5 separate regions of the Homo sapiens genome follow, and all the other regions are linked to region 1. The links come from fine-mapping of genetic effects on gene expression. A gene starts in region 1. Each other region holds a variant in brackets. All regions are shown on one strand. Distances are between the middles of the regions.

Region 1 (4,392 bases):
TATAGAGTATCTGCCAGAGCATACTAGGTCATGACAAAGACCAAAGGCATTCCAGACCACCAAGGAAGTCCAAAGGAGCTCCCCCAGAAACAGCCCAAGTCCCCAGATAAACTGACCCTTCCTCACCCAGCACACCCCCTTGGCCCTTTCTCACTCATGCTTCCAGTGGAGAAGGAAATAGACAAGCAGCCGGGTCTGAGAGCTTGATCAGATTCAGCCATACACACTCAGCAGTAAGCTCAGAGCCATGGCAATCAAACCTCAGGCTCACCCAAAGGCCAAAGGAGAAGCAGCCACAGCCTGGGTCTAGGGCTCCAGCTCAGAGCCACCATCTCTTCAGATGCTGGCTGCCAAGCAGAGCTATAAAATGTGCCTCGACTTAATTTTTCCATGGACACAACCTCAAGATGGGCCAGCCAGACTCTGGAGGAGCTGGGATTCCAAAGTCTCACTGCCTGTCTGCTCTGGGATCGGCAGCTGGAGTTGGGGAGAGGGAAGTATTTGGGGGTCGGCATTGCCACCTCCTGGGCCATTTCTCTTCCTAATATCTTCCCAAAGCCTGATGCAGCAACAGAGTAAGTTTTCATTCAGCACTGATTCAGGGTTGGAATTTAGTACAAATTGCTTACATCTGCCTGGCCATATCCCAAATAGGTAGTTTAGAGCAAGGAGGAGGGGCAGCATTGGCCCACTTCTTGGAGCCCGGGTAGCCGCCTGCTAAAGAATCTGGTGCCATGCTGGGACCAGCCAGCCCAGGGTACAAAACTCTCCAACAGAGTTGAGAAAAAACAGCCCAAGAGAGCTGCCAGAGACAATACAGCGATTCCATCCCAGGCATGATTGGAAGGGCTGGGGCAGGGAAGCTACGAAGACCCCAGAAGCGGGTGGAGAGGAGAAAAGGCAGGCCTGAAGGAGCAAGAGCAATGGCAGAAAACACACACACACACACACACACACACACACTTCAACATCAGCCAACTAGGGTGTGTGCACTAACCTCATACATTTGGTAACCTCTTCCCACAATCCAGAAGCCTGCCAAGCCCCTGGGCTCCCCACCCTACTCCACCCCACACCAGCTTGGCAGCCTTGCTTGTGCTTCCTGCTGCGATTGCTCCTCCAACATCAAAGTCACCGCTGTCGGGAGCTGAAAATGAGGGACAAGTATAGGCCAGGAGAGCAGCGCCTTCTCCCAGCACCGGCGAACTCAGGCCTGAGGGTCCCTCTCCCTCTTTCAAGCTTTCAGTCTCCTTTTGCTGCAGTATCCTTATAAGGGAGAATCCAATTCTACCCTCCGCCCGACTAAGAAACGTACACATTCCCCAGGCTAGATGCCGACTTCTCACCCAGTCCACAGAAGGCACTAACCCCATCACAGGACAGGTTTTGCTTTTTTTATTTCTTATCTTAAATAAACAAACCCCAAAGCCATTGACTGGTTCAGATCGCCCTGCAGCTGGGAGCCAGGAAGTGTGTTTAGCGAGAAGGGGGTGGGGACGCGGGTGCCTGGAGCCCCAGAGGCCCTGAAGCTGCTGGAGTGGAGTGGAGTGGGGTGAGGGGCAACCTGCTCTGCCCGGCGGGCAGGAGCTCAGGCTCCCACGGCGTCCGCCGCTCAGCCCGCCGCCAGGAACCCTCGGCTGCTTCCATTGTTGCACCTCCGCTGTTGCCATGTTGGAGGGAGAGCCCCCTGACCTCGGCTGCCTCCACTCTGGGGGCACTTTACAGACGCTGGGGCCGATGCAACCCGCAGGATGCGTGTCCTACCTGCGCTAGCTGCTGGCTCTGCTGCAACATCCGACGTGTCTTGTGCCTGGCGACGTGGGCTGCTCGCTCCGCGCCTCCCGGGCTCGCTCTGCGGCTCCAGGCGCCTCTTGCACCAGCGCGAGAGGAGCTGGCCGGCCGCACGCCGCCTGCTCCCGGGCCGCTCCCCTCTCCAGGCTCCGCACAGACCCTAGGCTCCAAGGGGCAGAGGGAGAGGCAGCAAAGGGCGCAAGGACCAGCTTGTGGGGGTGGGGAGGGGTGCTCTCCGCCGAGAGCGTGCGCGAGCTCGCAGAGTCAGGCCACCCCGGGTGAGACAATAGCGGCAGCAGCGGGCGAGAGAGGGGAAGCCATCTCCCGGACACCCGGCGCACTGCACGGCGACGCGACGCTCGGCCAGACCCTGCCTGGACAGGCAGGCACCCGGCCGCCGGCTCCAGCCGCAGCGCCGAATCCGCCGCGAGCCGGAGGGCGGGGCGGCTGCTGGAACCCGGGCCGCCCTTCGCCTCTCCCCTCCCCTTCCCCCTCCTCTTCTCTTCTCCTCTCCTCCTCTCCCCTCCGACTCCCGCCCCACTTGCCATTGCGTGGGGGAAGAGAAACGCGCTGGCGTCAAGTTGTGCTCTGCAACCCAAGAGCCAGGATTTCCACTCCCCACTTGGGTGAGGGTTTTTGCGGATGGTCGTTAGTTTCCCCTGCTGGAACCCCTTGGCTTTGGGTCAGAGGAAAGCTCAATCATTCTGCTAGAAATGACGGTGCTGAGGTCCAGTTATCCGTTTCAGGAATTTCTACCATAATTACGGTAGCGATGTTCGGGGGATCCCCTACCTTGAGGGTTAGGTTGGGGTAGAGAGAGGCTGTCTCCGGGCTTTACACGCTCAGTGTCATTCGTCTTTCTGTCTCCTTCCTTCCTCCCTTTCTGGAAGGGGAGTCTCGTTTGTTTTTGTATTCGCCCAGGTGGATCTTCCGAGCTGCGATCCAGGAAACAGCAGTCAACCTAAGTAGGGAGGGGAGATAGAGGATCCTCCAACCCAACTAGGGTAGTGAGAAAAAAAAGTAAAAAAAAAAAACCTTTCATACAATATGTTATATTTAAATTTTCTACTCTAAATACCTTTCTTCCAGCAGTGGTCTCTGGAAGAATTTTCCTAAAGGCTCCACCCAAAAGAAACCATGAGTTGGCCAGCTCCTCGTTTGCATTTGGTTTGCATAGTACCAACGATCACTAATCTCAAAGTATATTTTCCTAAAAACGTGAATCGTGTTTTCCTCCACTGCCCTCATTTCTTCTTTCTTTCTCGACAGACTATGAAGATTAACACCTGGTCCTCAGCCTCTCAAGTAAAACCATGATTAAATAAATTTGTTATGCTTTTCTCTGGTTAACTTGTCTTTTGTTATAGAAGTGTCGGCTGTGACTCTTATGATGGGGAGGAAAGGGATCACTCCCCTTTCTGATCCTACAGTGCCTTCTGTACCCAATGCTTGTGACTTTCAGTATTCCACTTCACCCTCTGAATATCAAGAATAGCGTCCTCACCTATCACGCTTTCGTAATGATCAAAGGAGAGAATGTAGGTGAAACATCTTGATAATTAACTGAAGGCAGCTTGGTCTGCACATATGTCATAATGTATATGATGCTACTCCTGATCTCAGGAGCCACAGGGGTTAAAAAACGTGTCCGTGCACTTCTTCACCATACAAATATTTATGACAGCTTACTCTGTGTCTGTCATCAGGTCAAGCTCAGGAGCCTGAGAGAACAGAGTGTTACAGGGGCCACTGGTGGTTCTTTTTTTTTTTTTTTTTTTTGAGACGGAGTCTTGCTCTGTCGCCCAGGCTGGAGTGCAGTGGCGTGATCTCGGCTCGCTGCAAGCTCTGCCTCCCGGGTTCACGCCATTCTTCTGGCCCAGCCTCCGGAGTAGCTGGGACTACAGGCGCCCGCCACTATGCCCAGCTAATTTTTTCTTTTTTTTTTTTTTTTTTTTTGTATTTTTAGTAGAGACAGGGTTTCACCGTGTTAGCCAGGATGGTCTCGATCTCCTGACCTTGTGTTCCACCCACCTCGGCCTCCCAAAGTGCTGGGATTACAGGCGTGAGCCACCGCGCCCGGCGACCACTGGTGGTTCTATGCTGCTGGGGTGAAAAGTCTGAAGGAAAGAACTAACAGGAAGTAGGCATAGGTAGCTGAGTGGAGGATCAGATCACAGGCTTTATCATGCATTTTGGTAAGGAAAAAATTGAATAAAGAGAAACCAGGGCATGCCAAAAAGTTTAGGTGCTGTAGGTGACAGAGAACCTGCTGTGCACAAATGGAACTGGGAAGTAGTGTGACCAGAAAAAGACTTCCTGGCATATTATAGAGAAGGATTTGGAAGATGCACTGCATGTCTTCCGTTTGCCCCTCCAGATCTTCCTGGCCCTCTGGCTTCCTAGACTGGGTTGGCCAATGGGGGCCATGGCTGAAGATTGAATAAGGAGGGAGGTCAGGGGAAACTGGATATTTATTCTTCAGGATTCCTCTCTTTGGGGTCACAGTGCGCTGGCTGCCACCCTCAACCAAAGATCACAGCTTCCACGGGTGGTTCTCTCTCCCCTCCCTCTCTCTTTTGTTTTTCTTTTTTTCTTTTTCTT
Region 2 (4,392 bases), 53 kb before region 1:
ATTGTCAACATTTTGCTAATCTTGTTTGCTAATCACACAACCCTATTTCTCCACTCCCTGCCACCTTGGTTGGAGTATTTTAAAGCAAATCCCAGATACTTTATTTCACTCATAAATATTTCAAGTGTAATTAACAAAGACACCATGCCATTGTCACATCCAAAAAATTAACAATCACTCTTTAATCTAACTCAATCTATATTCAAACTTCCCCCAACTGTCTCTCTCCTTCTCTCTCTCTCTCTATATATATATTTTCACACAGGGTCTCATTCTGTCGCCTGGTCTGAAGTACAGTGGCACCATCATGGCTTACTGCAGCCTCAAATTCCTGGACTCAAGCGATCCATCTGCCTCAGCCTCCCGAGGAGGTGGGACTGCAGGCACATGCCATTAGGCCTGGCTAATTTTTTATAATTTTTATTAGAGATGAGGTGTCTAGGTTGGTCCCAAACATTCCTGAGCTCAAGCAATTCTCCCATCTCAGCTTCACAAAGTGCTGGGATTACAGGCATGAGCTAGCATGTCTGGCCCAAAAAATATTTCCTTACAATTGGTTTGTTTTAATCAGGATCCAAAGTCTACACAATATGCTTGGCTGTCACGGCACCAAGTCTGTTTTACTTTATAACAGTCTTCTCCCATGCCTCCCTTTTAAGGCTATCCCACAGCTTCTCATGAAATAATCTTGCCCTTTTCACTTTCCTGGAGGAGGACACAGTTTGTGTTGGCAATGGGCAGAAGGACAATAAGCAAAGCGGTCCCCTCCTCCACCCTCACCCCTACTCCCAACTGACCTCTGCCCCGGCCGGTGGAGAAGCAGCGGAAGATGACCATGCGCATGTCCAGCCCCTCCTGGACCCAGATCTTGCTCATGATGCGAATCATCTGCAGCGTTAGCATGTCCTGGCGAAGGTCGTCCCCACACTGGATGGAGGGAGAAAGTGACCAGATCTAATCTCCACTACCTCCCCAGCTCTCAGGTCTCCCAAGTGCTCAACCTTGGCCCTAAACTAACAGTGACAGGGAGTTCCCCAGCCTCACACCCCTGACCTGCTCACTCAGCTCACACCAGGTCAAAGATGGCCCAGGAAGCTTCCCAGTTTGCCCATGTGTTGTTCCAGCTTGTCCTGCAATCCCATGGCCCCATCTGAATTAAATTCACGGTCTGCTTCTGCATGCAGCCCCTCTGACCATCAGGCCTTTTTTTTTTTTTTTTTGAGACAGTGTCTCACTTTGTCACCCAGGCTGGAGTGCAGTGGCACGATCTCAGCTCACCGCAACCTCCGCCTCCCAGGTTCAAGTGATTCTCATGCCTCAGCCTCCCAAGTAGCTGGAATTACAGGTGCCTGCCACCACGCCCAGCTAATTTATATATATATATATATATATATTTTTAGTAGAGATGGGGTCTCACCATCTTGGCCAGGCTGGTCTCAAACTCCTGACCTCAAATGATCTGCATGCCTCAGCCTCCCAAAGTGCTGGGATTATAGGCATGAGGCACCACACCCAGGCCATCAGGCCTTTTTTAAACTTGAACGTTTAGACTTTGGATTTGGAACTTGCGCATAGCAAATATATAAGTTACTAAGTCACATGCATGTATTTTGTCTCCCCCATTAGATTATATGCTCTGAGACTATCATTTACTTCTCAGAATTGTGGATACATCAGAGTTAGAAGGGACCTTAGGGTTCATCTAGTTGGACCTGCACCTGATATATTAATTTCCTCTTCAGCAGCCCTGCCACATGGCATTCAGCCTCTGCCTGAATACCCAAGGGACAAGCGGATCACCACCTTACCCAACCCATTGTTGAGGGAGCTCTGCCTCCTAGAAAGCACTTCGGGATACTGAGCTGCCAGTTGCCTCCCTATACCTAACACTCTGTTGTTAGGCCTCTGGGGCCATGCAGAATTCATCTAAATCCTTTTTCACCTGATCATCTTTCCTACATTAAGACAGCATGGAACAGTGGGAAGAGAACCACCCAGGGGCTACTTAATGCCACTCTAGGCTGCCTCCTTCTCTCTCCCACCCTGGTCCACCAGGCTTGAGTAAAGTATTCTCACCTTGAAGATGACACGGATGTTCTCACCCAGGGGATCCACATTTTGGAAGGAGAGTTTGAGGGGGACAGCATTGGAGTTGAAGTAGGAACAGTCCTGCCATGGTGAAAAGATAGTGACGAGGGTCAGAGTGGCCCATGCCAGGAAAGGAAAACGACCTCTCCACTTCAGACCAAGATGCTGCCTCCCCGCTGCTGCCGGTCCACCCAAGACCTGCTCATTGTTTCTTCCGGATTTCCCAGAAACCCAATTTCCTTCCTTCTCT[T/C]GTTAAATAGTCATCATCCCAATTCAGTTTGTTATGACCTCAGCTCCAGCACTTAACCTCCCATCCTGTTAGTTCATTCTGCGCACAACTTACTAGTTGTGTGACCTCTGGTAAGTCACATGTCCCATCTACACCTCAGTTTACTCCTCTGTAAAAGGGGACTCCCAATAGTACCAACATCCTAAGAGTTGTGAAGATGAAATGCCATAACCAACATTAAGCACTCAGAACAGGGCCGGGCACAGAGAGTGCTCAATAAATGACAGATGACAGCTGCTATCACCACCACCACCTCCGACTTCATCCCCAACATCATCAGAGAAAGACACCTGCCTAGCCGCCCAACCTCCAACCCAATTCCTCTACCCTGCAAGCTGTCAGGCTTCTAAAAGTCCATACACATTAGGAATGGGAAGAGGCCACAGATATGCCTTTCTTCCTAATCTCTCTCTTATTTTATGGCTTATATGGAGATGCTCACCTGTGCCCATACCCCCGTCTGTGCCCTCATTCTGTCTTTAAGCAGAGTTCACAGCCCCTCTGCCTCGTTTCTCCTTTCTATTTCTGCCATGTGTGGGTAGAGGAGAGACAGGATAACATAATCCTCACCATGTTGCATGGGGGTGAGCTGAGACCCCTGAGGAAAAGATGCTAGGCCAAGACCACATGGTAAGTTAGCAACATACTGACGCCCAGACAACTCAGCTCCTCGACCTTGCATGCCTGGTTAGTGAAGACCTCACCTCCACTGAGCCCTCCCACTCTGAGAGCCCCAAACCTACCAGTCACTCACCCTGGGCACAATTCCCTTAACCAGCAGACTGGGGCTGAGTGGCAAGCGGCACGAGCCATTGAGGGCAAAGAACTGCTTCACCTCCTCCAGGCCCGTGCGGAGGATTCCCTGGAAAGAAGGGGAGGAGTACAGCAGGGGTGAAATGGAGGGTCCATACTGAGAACCAGACCTCTCCCAGGGGTGGGTTCTCCGTAGTAGTCGGTATGAAAACCACCCCCTGAGAAGTGTGGACACCCTCCAGAAGATCCTTAAGGAGGAGGACCCCCTACACCCCAGCCTGGGACTGTACGCTAACAGCAAGACCAAATAGCTCTAGAGGGGAGCAGATGGCAGAACAGCATGAAGCAGGCCACAGTGCACAGAGAGGGCAGGCTGTCTCTCAAGGGGGAAGAGCTATTTAGGCTTCTGCCAAGAAAAGCTAACAATCTGGACGTTGATACAAAATCTCTCAATTTTTAAATGTCGTTAACCAGGAACACTGCTGGCTGGTTACAATGTCTTCGTACAAACAGATAAAGGTGTCCTCTCTGGGTGGCATCAGGCCTGAGCCATGGGTCACAGCATGGTGAACAAAATATGGCTGGATTTCAGCCCTCACTTGCCCCTTCTGGCTGAGTGCTCTTGTGCAATGAACAACTTACACAACTGTGCTTAGCCTTTAAAACAAACAGCTAAATAAATTTCAATATTTTACAGGACAAACAAAACACATCCACGGGCTGTATCCAGCTTGTGGACTGCCTGTTTACGGCCTAGTTTCCAGAGTCAGCTGCTCCCCGCTCCAAAATCAAAAATCGTCACGTGGAATCTTGTTGTTCAGGATTCCTAAGAAGAAACTGGCTGCCAAAGCCCTGGATGAGAAATGGGTAGGGGCAGCCTCACCCCACTAACCTGCCTTGCAGATGGGGCTGCCTCCCGGACCTGCTGGGCCAGTTTGGCCAGGGCATTGACAAGCCAGCACTGGCGGTTAAACTCTTCTCTCAGCCCCTTGCCACAGCAGCACAGTAAGGCTGCCAGCAGATACTGGTAGCGGATGCTGAACTGAGAGTCCTTGAGGCCGTCCTTCAGTAACCTGCAAGGCAGAGGGAGTCAGGAGTCAGGGCACTCCAGGGATCAAAGGCAAGGGTACAGGGGGAGACAGAGTCAGGCCCAGCTCCAACTCACTGCAAAACCCACCCCGAACTTGGGAGGGAAAATACATTCTGTATGTACGGCTCATATGGAGATGCTCACCTGTGCCCATACCCCAGTCTGTGCCCTC
Region 3 (4,392 bases), 33 kb before region 1:
CTTGAGACTCCGCATGAATCCAAGTGGGGAGGGCTCTGGCCCTCCCTACATGTGAAACCTTCTACCTCCTGATGGTTTCCTACCTGCGATAACAGCAAAACAGAACCTCTCAAACTGGAGGTTTCTGACATTGCTCATAGGATGCATGCTCCAGTGTACATCAAGTGCAGCAGCTGGGGGGTGACAGCTCTAGGTTCCTTAGCTCTGGAGACATCCTATTCCAGAGAATGGGACCAGCATGCAGTTTCCGACCTGCTTCTTCTATAGAGGAGCAGAATCCCTGACTACGCACTTGCCGTTGCCCAACATCTAGTAGTCTTAGTTTGCCCATGAGCGAGGGGTTAAAAAGAAGTGCTCTGCCAACAGATTTTCAGGCTCCACCCAGACCCCTCATAGTGCTGGGTGATCCCAGGAGGACTGAGGAAGGGGAGAGGAGGAGCTTTCGGGCAGCAGGGCCAGCCCCTGGATTCGTACTCACATCAGCCAGCAGGAAGGCATCCACCTCATTGTGGTAAGTGTCGAACAGAAGACTCAGGGCCTGCCTGGGAGTTGGGGGCAGGGAAAAACCACAGGAGAGGTCATGAAAGACCCAGTGCCCTGGGAAACCCATTTTCTCCCTCCCTCTCCTCAGCTCACACTCTGATTTAAAGGAGTTCCCACTCTTTCTATATGTCCTGTGAAGACATATAGAGGGAGAGTCTTTCTATTCTGCCACTTCTCGCCTGGAGAGAATGATGGCAAAGTTCCAGAGGGAAGAAATGAAACATGCCTGGAGTGGGGATCTTCTCTGATAAGATGTGTGGGCCCCAACCCCTGACACCTGCAAGAATCCCTTAGCCCTGACAGAAAGGCAAGCAGGCACATCTGATGGGATCCCTGCACAGTTCTTGTTTGGAGCACATCCAAGATGGTGCCCACACTCACCTGCTGATGGTCTGCTTGACAGGCCTCTCTTGGAGATGGACGAGGTAGTTCAAGGTGGAGGGGCTCTGGTCATCATTCACCTGTATAAGAAGTGACCTATTCAGAGAGGGGCGGTGCCCTTATCTCAGCTCAGCACTCCTACCCCCCTCCCACCTGATGTGTTCTATATTGTATTCCCATTCCACCTCCCCAGCCCTGGGCAACCCTCCACCACCCTCACACGAACCGTCCGGGCCAGGTCACTGCGCACAACCTTCTGCTCCATCAGCTGTAGCCGAATGTCAATGTCAAACTTGCGGCAGTATTGGATGTACTCATGACTGCCCAAGGCATGCTTGCTGGTAGGGTAGAGGGACAAGACCATTAGCATCCTGGGGACTCAGTGGCAAGGGAGATACATACCTTAGCCTTGGGGAGAGACATACAGAAAGAAGGTTTAGGTAAGGGGGTAGTACCCGTGTTGTACCCTACTTTGGCTCCTAGAAAATGACACGGTAGAGCTTAGGAGAAGGAACAGAGGTCTATCTAAACAAAAGCCACCTAATATACTTAATCCTTGGCCGGTATAAATATTGACTCTCTTAGATATTTATTACCCGTGTGGTAATCACTGGTTCACTCCAGGGCTGGGAACTGTTGGAGAGAGCGGGGAAACAGAGGCACATCACAGGGAGCAGTTGCTGAAGCCCTATCTTCTGGGCCTCTGTATAGGGGACAACCAGGAAGAGACATGTTGGAGTCCACCTGTGCTCAGGCTCCAGGGTGGGAGCTCAGCGAGAGACCCCTCTTCCAATGCTACCAACTAGGGTGCTGAGGCCAAAAAAACTTGGGGCAAGCCTACCAAGCCTCCAGATCAGTGTCCCCACCCAACTTCTTTTTCTGCCTTCCATCTGTTGGCCCTGCCTGCTTGTGAATAACCTTACAAATTTCTATGACTTCTTGAAAAGTCCCAAATGCATGCCAGTCCCACCTGCTCAAGCACCCATGTGTGAGACTCCCCCTTTCAGAGAGAAGGCCTAGGAGCCCTCGGCGATCCAACCTCTTCCTCTCTCCCAAATCACACCTTCAACAGCAAGGAAACCCAAGAGGAGGGGCAGAGGGAGAACTACCTCCAGGCCAGCACTGCAGGCCTGGGCCTGGCCTCAGCAGCTGGGTAACAGAAGCCGGAAAAGGACTTCCTTCCTCAGCAGAGCTGGGAATCTAGGCCAGAAATGGAGAGGAGAGGACAGGAGCATAAGGGGGGCAGTATATGTAAAAGCTGGCGGAGGTGCAGGGCCCAGGGTCGTCTAGGTCCCATGAGGGCTCGAGTGAGGGGTTCTCCACATCCTGAGAGGACCAAATCTCCGATCTAGACCCTCTCAGATCTAAGACTGAAGTGCAGCCAAAACCTGGAGGTGGTGAGGCTGGGCTGTGGGGCTGGGCCTGGTG[G/A]GAGAGCCTGGGAGGAAGGAAGAGTGTGGTGGGGCTGGGGGAGGTGGCAGGAAACCCAACCCTCCCACGGGACTGCCTCAAGGTTCTTATCTGAGAGCAGCCTGCATCCTGAACCCACTCACCCCCTCAGTATCAGCCCCTCCTGCCAGGCAGGGGTAGAAAATCTCAGGGCTTCCTTGGGAACTAGCAGATTTCTGGAACCCCCGGAGCGTCCTTTCCACCCCCATCCCAGGCAGTTGTCATGTGTTGGGGGTCTGGGGGCTGGGCCAGGAGACAGCATTGTGCTTTTCTGTTGGGTGGGAGTGGGGCTCCTAGGCCAGGAGTCATGCACACAGGTCCCCTGGGGACTTGCTTGATCTTCTCTGTGGAAGGCCTTCCTCTCTGTGCATTCAAGTGAGAGTATGAGGGGTGTGATCTGAGGACCGCTGACCCTGTCCCACCTCACTAAGAATATTTCACCTGAGTCTTAGCAGGAAGGTAGAACTTGACAGCTCCCACTACCTCCGGACCCAGGGGCTCCAGGATTTGGGGTGCTGCAAGGGAAATGGCAGTATCTGTGCAGCCCAGAGCCCTAGGACTTCTCTCCGTGGGCTGCTCCTTCCCTGCTGGTATTTACTGATTGCTCACAGGTCATTCTCACATTTCACCCTCACTGCAGCTTACAGAGGGCCCTGAGCATCAATCAGCCTTCACAACTAGTAAGTGGCAAGTCCGAATTCAAACCTGTGTAATGGCGTCAGCAGGAGCTCCAACTTATCCACTATGTCCCCTTTTTCCCTTCTAACAGTGGCAGGCCACCTGGCACTCTCTCTGCCAGGCAACCCTGAGTCTAGGACCCCTCCTGTTCCTCTAGGGGAAAAGTGTGTACATAAGTGAGTTTAAAGGTGGGGCACATTTGAAGGGTACCCTGGAGTTGTACCATACAGAACCCTGCCTCTTTCCTTTCCCTTAGCTTCGAGATGAGGAGGCAGAGGCCAGAAAGGACCCCACAATATCCTTAAATTTGAAATAAGCCCAGATAGCTGGGCACAGTGGCTCACACCTGTAATCCCAGCACTTTGGGAGGCCAAGGCGGGCAGATCACCCGAGGTCAGGAGTTCGAGACCAGCCTGGCCAACATGGTGAAACCCAGTCTCTATTAAAAAATACAAAAATTAGCCGGGCGTGGTGGTGCTTATGCCTGTAATCCCAGCTACTCAGGAGGCTGAGGCATGAGAATCGCTTGAGCCTGGGAGACGGAGGTTGCAGTGAGCTGAGTGAGATGGCGCCACAGCACTCCAGCCTGCACGACAGAGTGAGACTCTGTCTCAAAAAAAGAAAGAAGTCCAGAAATGAATCTTCCATCCTGACTGCCAAATCTTATGCTCTAGACATAGATCAACCATCCTTGCATCTAGACCTGAATGTAAGAGAGAGAAAAAGCAAGCAGTGGCACTTATAGGGCACTCCTAAGAAGTGAGACACAGGTCTCTCCTTTCTCTATTCCCAAAACGTGCTTCCTCCAAGTGGACAGAGACTGGGGGCAGGAGCGGCTCTGAAGCCTAAGAGAGGAAAGCAGATCTTATCTGTCTGCTGTCACACAGCTGTACCATCTGAGAAGTGATAACCTTGCCCCTGCCTCTCTTCCACTGCAGCCCTCCAGAGCCCAGGGTAGTGGAAAGGGGGTTGCCTCAGCTGGTCCACATCAGACTTTCCAGGGAGGCTGCTTTCCAGAGAGGGCACTGGATGGAGAGGAGCTGGAGGCACGCCTTTGGGAGGAGGATAACTAGCTGCACGGGCCAGCTGGGGAAAAGACTTGTTGGCAGGAGAATGGGGAGAGACAGTAATTGTAATTTCTCCCCTGGGCTCCACAAGGGAACTTCTGCCCAGTCCTCATTTTGCCCCAGCCATAAAAACACCACACATAATCTAGAGCAGGAGATACAGCACTACCCATATAGTCTCCCCAAGCCCACCCCTCCCCACAAATACACACATCTCTCCATAAGCAGAATCTGCAAGCAGATATGACCTAGTCTTTGCCTAATCCCAGCTCCAAGC
Region 4 (4,392 bases), 21 kb after region 1:
ACTGAAGACCGGAAACCTGTGTAACTTCTTCTGTTTTCTACAAATAGCTAGACTAGAACCCAGATTTCCTGTCTTTTTATTCGAATCAATGGTTTGTGAGCATAGTTCTTAAAGAAGGAAGTGGTGATCACTCAGTTGAGTTTTTAAGCCAATTTCCAATTTCATTTCTTTCTTTCATTTCTTCTTTTTTTTTTTTTTGAGATGGAGTCTTCCTCTGTCGCCCACGCTGGAGCGTAGTGGCACGCGCCTGTAATCCCAGCAATTTGGGAGGGTGAGGCAGGAGAATCGTTTGAATCTGGGAGGCGGAGAATGCAGCGAGCTGAGATCGTGCCACTGCACTCCAGCCTGGCAACAGAAGGGAACTCCGTCTCAAAAACAAAACAAAACAAAACAAAACAAAATAACCACACACATAGAATTAGCTGGGCGTGCTGGCGGGTGCCACCTGTAGGATTATAAGATTACACCTGTAATCCTAACACTTTGGGAGGCCAAGGTGTGGGGGAGGATCACTTGAGGCCAGGAGTTCAAGACCAGACTGGGCGACATAGTAAGACCCTGTGTCTATTTTTTTAAAAAAATTAGAAGATGAGCAATTACTCACAAATCAGTGTCAACCACGATGGGAAAAACTCTATTCTTCACCATGGCCTCGTCAACATATTTATCAACGTTTTGTTTTTTTTGATTGACTGAGATAGAGTCTGGCTCCATCACCCAGGCTAGAGTGCAGTGGAGCAATCTCGACTCACTGCAATCTCCTCCTCCGGGTTCAAGCAATTCTCCTCCCTCAGCCTCCCGAGTAGCTGGGATTATAGGCGCCTACCACTGCACCCGGCTAATCTTTTTTGTATCTTTAGACAGTGTTTTACCATGTTGGCCAGGCTAGTCTCGAACTTCTGACCTCACGTGATCCACCTGCCTCGACCTCCCAAAGTGCTGGGATTACAGGCATAAGCCACTGCGCCGGGCCCTCGAGATTTTAAATGAAGACGAATTAAAGATGTTGGTCAATATTTTGCCCAAATTGAAAAGGCTTATCTCTCTTAACCTAGAGGAGGTTAACTGCAGCTCATCAATCATTGCACTTACCACATTCTTTTTACCTGGACAGTCTGATTCCTCCACTAGACAGATTTCAGGTCTTGTTTTGGAATCCTCTAGATTGGTGCTTGGCACAAGTAGGATGCTCAGCTAATTAATTTTTTTTTTTTTTTTTTTTTTTTTTTTTTTGTAGAGATGGTGTTCTCGCTTTCTTGCCCAGGCTGGTCTTGAACTCCTGGGCTTAAACGATCCTCCCACCTTGGCCTCCCAAAGGGTTGGGATTACAGGTGTGAGCCACTGCACCTGGCCTCAACAAATACCTGTTGATCTCACACAAACTGAATTGCATGAACAGATCATATTCCAAGGCTCCAGGAGACATTAGGAAAGGATCCAAACTAACCAGATGCTATTTAAAAGTTACAAAAAAAAAATTCCTGTTGAAAGTTTTAAAAAATACTAATTGCACAAAAGGACAGGGGAAATAGTTGACAGTGGTTCACCTAAAAAAGCACCCTTGACCTTTTTTTTTTTTTTTTTGTGAGTGAGGTGGTTGCAGATTTCTATGAAAAAGAAGTTAATTCTTCAGCTCCTTAATGGAACCCTGGATCTCCCAGCTATGCAGGAGGTTATGCTAGAAGTAGAACAAAGCGGAATGTACAAATTTAAGGAAGGTTACTGCCCTGTGTTCTTTTGCATGGGTCTGTATCTAGCATTGGGAGCCAGGTTTTGTTGTTGCTTATTGGGAGAGATAAGAATGGTATATACACAAATAACTAAAAAAAAAATACGTGGTAAATGCTAAAAGACAGGTGCAAAGAACACTGAGATGGAGCTTTCTTGGGTTACACAGCCAGTTTTAATGTTTCCTAATATAGAAGAGCTTTCAACAAACCTCTCAGGCAGGCTGTCTTCAAATGACATTACTTCCCCCAAATACCTAATTTCATTTATTTCAGAACAACTCTAAATGTTAGAGGATTTTCTGAGCTTAAAAATACTGCCTTGTAATTTCTATTGGTTTTAGTTCTGCACTTTGGAGAAGAGAATAAGGCTCCGTTATTTCCAATATTATACTATTCAGTTATTTGAAGACAGCTTCCAATTTCTATGCTCAACCCTTTCCCTCTTTTTTTTTTTTTTTTTTTTTGAGATGCAGTTTCGCTCTTGTCGCCCAGGCTGGAGTGCAATGGCGCTATCTCGGCTCACTGCAACCTCCGCCACCCGGGTTCAA[A/G]CGATTCTCCTGCCTCGGCCTCCTAAGTAGCTGGGATTACAGGTGACCGCCACCATGCCCCGCTAATTTTTTGTATTTTTAGTAGAAACGGGGGTTTCGCCATGTTGGGCAGGATGGTCTCGAACTGCTGACCTCAGGTGATCCGCCCGCCTCGGCCTCCCAAAGTGCGCTGGGATTACAGGGGAGAGCCACTGCGCCCGGCCTCCCTCGTTTATATGCAGGTTAAAAACTCCCTTGAGCCTTCAACTATTTCTTTTTCTTTTTTTTTTTTTTTTTTGAGGAGTTTCGCTCTTGTTGCCCAGGCTGGAATGGCGCTATCTCGGCTCACTGCAACCTCCGCCTCCCAAGTTCAAACGATTCTCCTGAGTAGCTGGGATTACAGGCATGCGCCACCACACCCGACTAATTTTGTATTTTTAGTAGAAACAGGGTTTCACCATATTGGTCAGACTGGTCTCGAACTCCTGACCTCAGGTGATCCGCCTGCCTTAGGCCTCCCAAAGTGCTGGGATTACAGGCGTGAGCCACAGCGGCTGGTGCTTTCAACTATTTATTTGACATGGCTTCAAGCTTCCTTGCCACCCTAGTGCCGCCATCGCTCCGTTTCCCTTCCCTACCACCCTTGGGGAGTAAGGGTGAGGACTGGGGAATGGCAGAGGAAGCGTAGTTTTTCCGAAGAGCTGAAGGCAGCCTGTGATTATGACCTTAGCTCTTCCTCTTCTCTGTTTTCTGATCTCCTAATACACGTCTGTAAATATCACAAGACCCTGCAAGTCCCTCACTTATTATCTCTTCAAATCTGACGACTTTCAACCGTTCGGGCCCCACGACTCTCTCCCCGGACTAGGATCTACTCTATGGTAGTGAGCTCAGCCTTTCTAGCTCTCTAGTCCTCCCATTGCTCCATCTATGGTTTCCGGAGGCCTCACCGGAAGCCCTCGTGTGAGGCCGTGTGGGAGGCCGGAAGTTGCGGCTTCATTACTCGCCATTTCAAAATGCTGCCGAGGCCCTAGGATCTGTGACTGCCACCCCTCCCCCCACCCGGGCTCGGCGGGGGAGCGACTCATGGAGCTGCCGTAAGGTGTGGCTCTTGGCCTTCGTCGGCGGGGTGCCGGGAGCGGGAGCTGGAGAGTGAGGAGCAGGCGGCCGTACCGCCAGTTGTGCGGGTAGCGGGCGGGAGGAGCTTGAGAGGTGGGTCGGGCGGCGTGGGGAAGGCCGCGCCAGGCGGAAGAAGGGCTCGGGGGGAGGGGAAGAGTTGTGGGATGAGGGCTCGCGGAAGATAAAAGTGGAGGTGGGGTGACGTGAAGTAACTTTGGCCAACAGGTGACAAACCTAAAGTCGACGTAGTTGGATTGAGTTTAACTGGACACAACATTTGAGGACTGTTGAGGCAATTTGGAGAAAGGAGGTGGGAGAGAGGGAACCGGGTAGAATGACATTGACGTGTCTTAAGTTTTTAAGTTAGTTTTTAGGTCTGCGGACAGTCTACCTTAGAGGCACTTGAGTGCTTGTTTGAAAATGCTTGTTTTGGCTTGGCGCGGTGGCTCACGCCTGTAATCCCAGCACTTCAGGAGGCCGAGGTGGGTGGATCTACCTGAGGACAGGAGTTCGAGACCAACCTGGCCAACCTGGTGAAACCCCGTCTCTAGTAAAAATACAAAAATATTAGATGTGTGTGGTGGCGCATGCCTGTAATCCTAGCTACTCGGGAGGCTGAGGCAGGAGAATCACTTGAATCCGTGGGCGGGGGTTGCAGTGAGTCGAGATCGCGCCACTGCACTCCAGCTTGGGCTACAGAGGGAGATTCCGTCTCAAAAAAAAAAAAAGAAAAAATGTTCGTTTTGGGGCCACACTGAAACCTACAGACAGTATCGAGATGGGGCTCAGAGAAATATATTTTAATGAGCACACCTCCCAGTGATTTTTGTATACCTTAAAGCTTGAAAACCACAGGTTTTTTTGGTTGTGTTTTTGTTTTGTTTTTGTTTTTTTTGAGTGGAGTTTCGCTCTTTTTGCCCAGGCTGGCGTGCAGTGGCGCGATCTTGGCTCACTGCAACTTCTGCCTCACGGGTTCAAGTGATTCTTCTGCCTCAGCCTCCCGGGTCGCTGGGATT
Region 5 (4,392 bases), 40 kb before region 1:
AGTGCCCTTCACAAGGCGCTAGGCAGGGGACTGCCCCTTTAAAATTCAAGGTGGGGATCTCAGGGAACAAAATGAAACTCATGGGGCAGGCTGGGCTGCCTCTCTACCTCTGATACTGTATGAGTAAAGGGTTTAAGGCCAATTTTTTAAAGTTCCTCCTGGGCCAGAACACTGTGCAGCACCCTTTTTTTTTTTTTTTTTTTTTTTTTGAGACAGGGTCTCGCTCTGTTGCCGAGGCTGGATACTCACTGCAGCCTTGACCTCCCAGGCTCAAGTGATTCTCCCACCTCAGCCTCCTAAGTAGCTGGAACCACAGGTGTATGCCACCACACTTGGCTAATTTTTTGTATTTTTTGTAGAGATTGGGTCTCCCTTGTTGCCCAGGCTGGCACCCCTTCTCTTGACAGCAGCAGTAATTGTGACCAAAAAATCCCAAGGGAATGGTGGAACTCAAGGGCCATTTAATGCAGCTATCCTCTGCCTGCAAGGAGTTTCTCCTGTCCTGGCAGTTGTTTGCTTGAGGACCTTTAATGCACACCCCATGTCCTTTTTTTTTTTTTTTTTTTTTAAGATAGGGTCTCACTCTGTTGCCCAGGCTATAGTGCAGTGGTGTGATCATGGCTCACTGCAGCCTCGACCTCCCAGGCTCAAGTGACTCTCCCACCTCAGCCTCTTAAGTAGCTAGGACTACAGATGCACGCCACCACACTCAGCTCATTTAAAATAATTTTTTAGTAGAGATAAGGCCTCTTTGTGTTGCCCAGGCTGGTCTCAAATTCCTGATCTCAAGTGATTATCCCGCCTTGTCCTCCCAAAGTACGGTGAGACTACAGGTGTGAGCCATCGTGCCCAGCCATATACACCTTTATTGCTCTAAGAATTACCTAAGTGTGAAGGGCATGAGAAAGGGTCCATTTTCCCAGTTGTCCATCTGTAAAAGGACCCACCTCTTCCAGCATCTCCAGATTCTTCATCTACCTATTTTGCATCCTCGGCCTCCCCAGGACCCTCCTCAGTCTCTTTAATCTGTGCTACAAATACTTAGCTTGCAGTGCTGCTCTGCAAATGAGGACTCTAATATAGTCAGTGTGGGGAAGCAAAGCCGGGGGCAGCAAACAGGGGATTTTCTGACTGACTGGAAGGAAGGTAGAGCATAGCACAGATGAAGCACAGGGCAGGAAAACCCCTGCGGTGCCCCCATTCAAGCAAGGCACCCTCTCCTCCGTTTCCTTCCTGCTTTGCTTGGCTGACGCCTACCTTCCCGACACCAAATTATTGTTTACATGTGGTGATTAATATTACCTTGTGCTTTTGGTTTCATATTTATATTTATAACCCACCTATCTCATCTCGACGCCATAACTGCCTCTGAGTGAAACCAATGTCCCCATTTCTCAGTTTGAAAAAATGAGGCACAGAAAGAATAGAGAGAAAGTAGTATTCGAGACAGAGCTAGAAATAGAGGCTCACTCCTGGGAATCCAAGCTCAATATTCTTTCTCTAGACAACCCTCCCTTCTCTATATATAAAGGGAAAAGCACAGTCTCCTCTCCATAGTCTACAGGAACTGAGGGAAGAAGGGAGAGGATGAGAAGCCCTCCAACTAGTTAAACTCTTTAAGGGAGACAAGATCAAAAAATAAAGTATTATTAAAATTAACAACTAACATTTAATTTTTTTTTTTTTGAGACAGAATTTCGCTCTTGTTGCCCAGGCTGGAGTGCAATGGCACGATCTCAGCTCACTACAACCTCCACCTCCCGGGTTCAAGCGATTCTCCTGCCTCAGCCTCCCTAGTAGCTGGGATTACAGGCATGCGCCACCATGCCCGGCTATTTTGTATTTTTTTTAGTAGAGACGAGGTTTCTCCATGTTGGTCAGGCTGGTCTTGAACTCCCTGCCTCAGGTGATCCGCCCGCCTCGGCCTCCCAAAGCGCTGGGATTACAAGCGTAAGCCACCGCGCCTGGTCAACAACTAAAATTTATATGTTTTTTATGGTTTACAAAGAGCCTTTATAGATACTTCTCATTGGATCCTCATGACAACTTGAGAAGTGGTAATTATACTTGGCTCCTTTAAGAGTCAGGGAAGTGGAGGCCAGGCGTGGTGGCTCACGCCTGTAATCCCAGCACTCTGGGAGGCCGAGGCGGGCAGATCACGAGGTCAGGAGATCGAGACTATCCTAGCTAACACATGGAAACCCCATCTCTGCTAAAAATACAAAAAATTAGCTGGGCGTGGTGGCGGGCGCCTGTAGTCCCAGCTACTCGGGAGGCTGAGACAGAAGAATGGCGTGAACCCAGGAGGCAGAGCTTGCAGTGAGCCGAGATCGCACCACTGCACTCCAGCTTGGGCAACAAAGCGAGGCTGCCTCTCAAAAAAAAAAAAAAAAAAAGAGTCAGGGAAGTGGAGACTCAAGAGGTTGAATGACTTGTCCAGTTAGGGTTAACAAGGAGCCTGGTTTTATCATTAGTCCTGGACTAGTTATCTGGCCCCAGGGATATTTCAGAGGCTGAGCAGGTCTACAGTGGCCTGGGCACTGAAGCCTGGGGGAAGGGCTTACTGCTGGTCCCAGAC[G/A]ATGAGGTGGAAGAGGTACTTGGAGAAGTGAGCTCTTCGGGTCTGCAGGGGGCTGCACAGCTCCTTGCCGCCATGGCTGAGGGAGCAGGAGAGGTAGAAATCTTCATAGCTATAAAAGAAAGGGAGCAGGTCAGGACACCCAGCTCCCAAAACCAATCACCCAAACCTATGCGTCCCTCTAAGGCCAAAATCCATTTCCCCTGGTAAAACTCTCAGTCTCTGAGGGCTGTAACACAGGATCTCCGGATAGGACAGCCAAACTGGATGTAAGGAAATGTGCTCAGGCCAAAGCAACTCAATCTAGATTCCTCTGCTCGGTTTTAGGCTCCATTCTGAGCCTTGTTGTTTTTCTTCCTTTAATGGGAACTGGCCACCCAGCCTCTTTATAGAAAGCTCCAGCCCATGGAGCGTCTGTGTGTGCGTGCGTGTGTGCGCGTGCACGTGCATGCGCAAGTGAGAAGGGTGGGGGAGGAAGACGACATATGCCGACATGAATGCCAACACACGGGGGTCCCTGTGGCTCATGACAGGTGCCTGACAGAAGAGGTCAGAGAAGGCCCCGGTTTCCCAGGCTGCCTCCTTTGTTCTCTGCCAATCGCCCAGAGGAATACATTAAGTAAGGAACAAAGAGAGAAGGGGAAGGGGGTTGGGGAAAGGGGACCGGCAGGGGCGGGGTAGGGCCCAGTGCCTATTCCCTCAGGCCTTGGATGCTGGGGACCCAACAGAGGCGCTGAGGATTTTACCAAAAGAACATCCTCCTCCACCCACCCCTGCAGGCCTAGAGAACCCCAGACAAAGGGTCAATCCCACCTCCCCACCCCCTCCCACTGGCCAGGGAGCGTGCACTCTATCTGGGAATCGGCCATCTGTTGCCATGTCTCCTTCCACTGGTCTTGGATCTGGAGGGGGCAGGGATGCAGAGGCAGCCAGCACCAAGAGGGAATAACAGGATCTTCTTCATCTCCTAAGGGACCTCCTCTCTCCTCTAGGATGTCCCCAGCCCAAGTCCTCCTCAGGCACTTGGCTCACCCCCGCAGCCCCATTGCACCACAATGTCACACAATGCCACACATCCTAAGACTTAGGACAGTGGTATTACATGCAGATAGGAAAAAGCCCTGGTGGAGGTCAAACTCAGCTTGCTCCCTAGCGGCTACTCAGCCCTGGGCTCACCTGGTAGCCCAGATGATGGGGATGCGGTGGGTGGCATAGACAGTGAAGGCCAGGGACCTGGCGAAATGGCAGGCCTCCTGGACCAGGTCATGCTTGCGGCTCCCGGGCACTGCCGTCTGGAAGTCTGCGTTGAATGTGTTGCAGTACAGCTCCACCAGGTCCAAGATGGCAGCGGTCAGGGCTTCCACGACCTTCTCTGGGAAGGGAAGGGGTCAGAAGGGAAAGTCATGAGGCCTCCACAAGCCCTACCTTGTTGCCATGGCATTGGCTAGAATGGGATGGCCTAAGACAGTGGTCCCCAAATGCTAGTCAGTCTCTAATAGCTGTGACAAAGTTCACCCATCTGCGGTAAAATGAGAAAAAAGCAGAAGCATGTCATGAGCTTTTCATAAAATGACAGTTATACAATGTTAAACATAATCCTTATTTTTACGTATTGCTACTTAGCATTAAAATGTCCTTTCTTTTAGGAAACAGTGTTAATAATTATTGTCAGTTGCTTCAAAAAAGCAAAAGTCAAAAAAGTTTGGCCAAGTAAAAGGCTGCCAATTCTCTCTTGGTCCCCCAAATACTTTGGGGGACATTTTACTGGTCTATGAAATCCAAAAGACTGGGAATCACCATAAGAATCCCAGGGATGC

Evidence for each region. PIP is the estimated chance that this variant, and not a neighbour inherited with it, causes the effect.
Region 2: its variant is fine-mapped to the expression of PIK3C2B in whole blood (TOPMed, PIP above 0.99).
Region 3: its variant is fine-mapped to the expression of PIK3C2B in whole blood (TOPMed, PIP above 0.99).
Region 4: its variant is fine-mapped to the expression of PIK3C2B in whole blood (TOPMed, PIP above 0.99).
Region 5: its variant is fine-mapped to the expression of PIK3C2B in whole blood (TOPMed, PIP above 0.99). The same link has a PIP of 0.9 or more in sun-exposed skin.

The regions. Positions count from the first base shown.
Region 1 is chr1:204,492,592-204,496,983 of GRCh38, forward strand. PIK3C2B (phosphatidylinositol-4-phosphate 3-kinase catalytic subunit type 2 beta) reads right to left here and starts at 2,214. Exons shown (of 33, transcript NM_001377334.1): 1 at 1,765-2,214. It overlaps LOC124904584 (translation initiation factor IF-2), which reads left to right. Exons shown (of 2, transcript XM_047439554.1): 2 at 1,585-3,141. The coding sequence ends at 2,605. RefSeq lists silencers at 255-334, 1,894-2,363 and enhancers at 1,404-1,593, 1,664-1,793.
Region 2 is chr1:204,439,395-204,443,786 of GRCh38, forward strand. PIK3C2B (phosphatidylinositol-4-phosphate 3-kinase catalytic subunit type 2 beta) reads right to left here. Exons shown (of 33, transcript NM_001377334.1): 19 at 4,023-4,203; 20 at 3,132-3,239; 21 at 2,077-2,169; 22 at 798-927. Among named protein-coding and RNA genes, the nearest start is that of PPP1R15B, 30 kb to the left of the region's middle. The variant T/C (reference allele first, on the strand shown) is at 2,339.
Region 3 is chr1:204,459,400-204,463,791 of GRCh38, forward strand. It overlaps PIK3C2B (phosphatidylinositol-4-phosphate 3-kinase catalytic subunit type 2 beta), which reads right to left. Exons shown (of 33, transcript NM_001377334.1): 6 at 1,151-1,262; 7 at 925-1,004; 8 at 479-542. Among named protein-coding and RNA genes, the nearest start is that of PIK3C2B, 33 kb to the right of the region's middle. RefSeq lists a silencer at 2,802-3,096. The variant G/A (reference allele first, on the strand shown) is at 2,353.
Region 4 is chr1:204,513,151-204,517,542 of GRCh38, forward strand. MDM4 (MDM4 regulator of p53) reads left to right here and starts at 3,256. Exons shown (of 11, transcript NM_002393.5): 1 at 3,256-3,359. RefSeq lists enhancers at 1,738-2,649, 2,510-3,709, 2,650-3,560, 2,999-3,128, 3,139-3,218 and 1 more. The variant A/G (reference allele first, on the strand shown) is at 2,279.
Region 5 is chr1:204,452,105-204,456,496 of GRCh38, forward strand. PIK3C2B (phosphatidylinositol-4-phosphate 3-kinase catalytic subunit type 2 beta) reads right to left here. Exons shown (of 33, transcript NM_001377334.1): 11 at 3,752-3,947; 12 at 2,565-2,687. Among named protein-coding and RNA genes, the nearest start is that of PIK3C2B, 41 kb to the right of the region's middle. RefSeq lists enhancers at 1,024-1,133, 2,726-3,703. The variant G/A (reference allele first, on the strand shown) is at 2,579.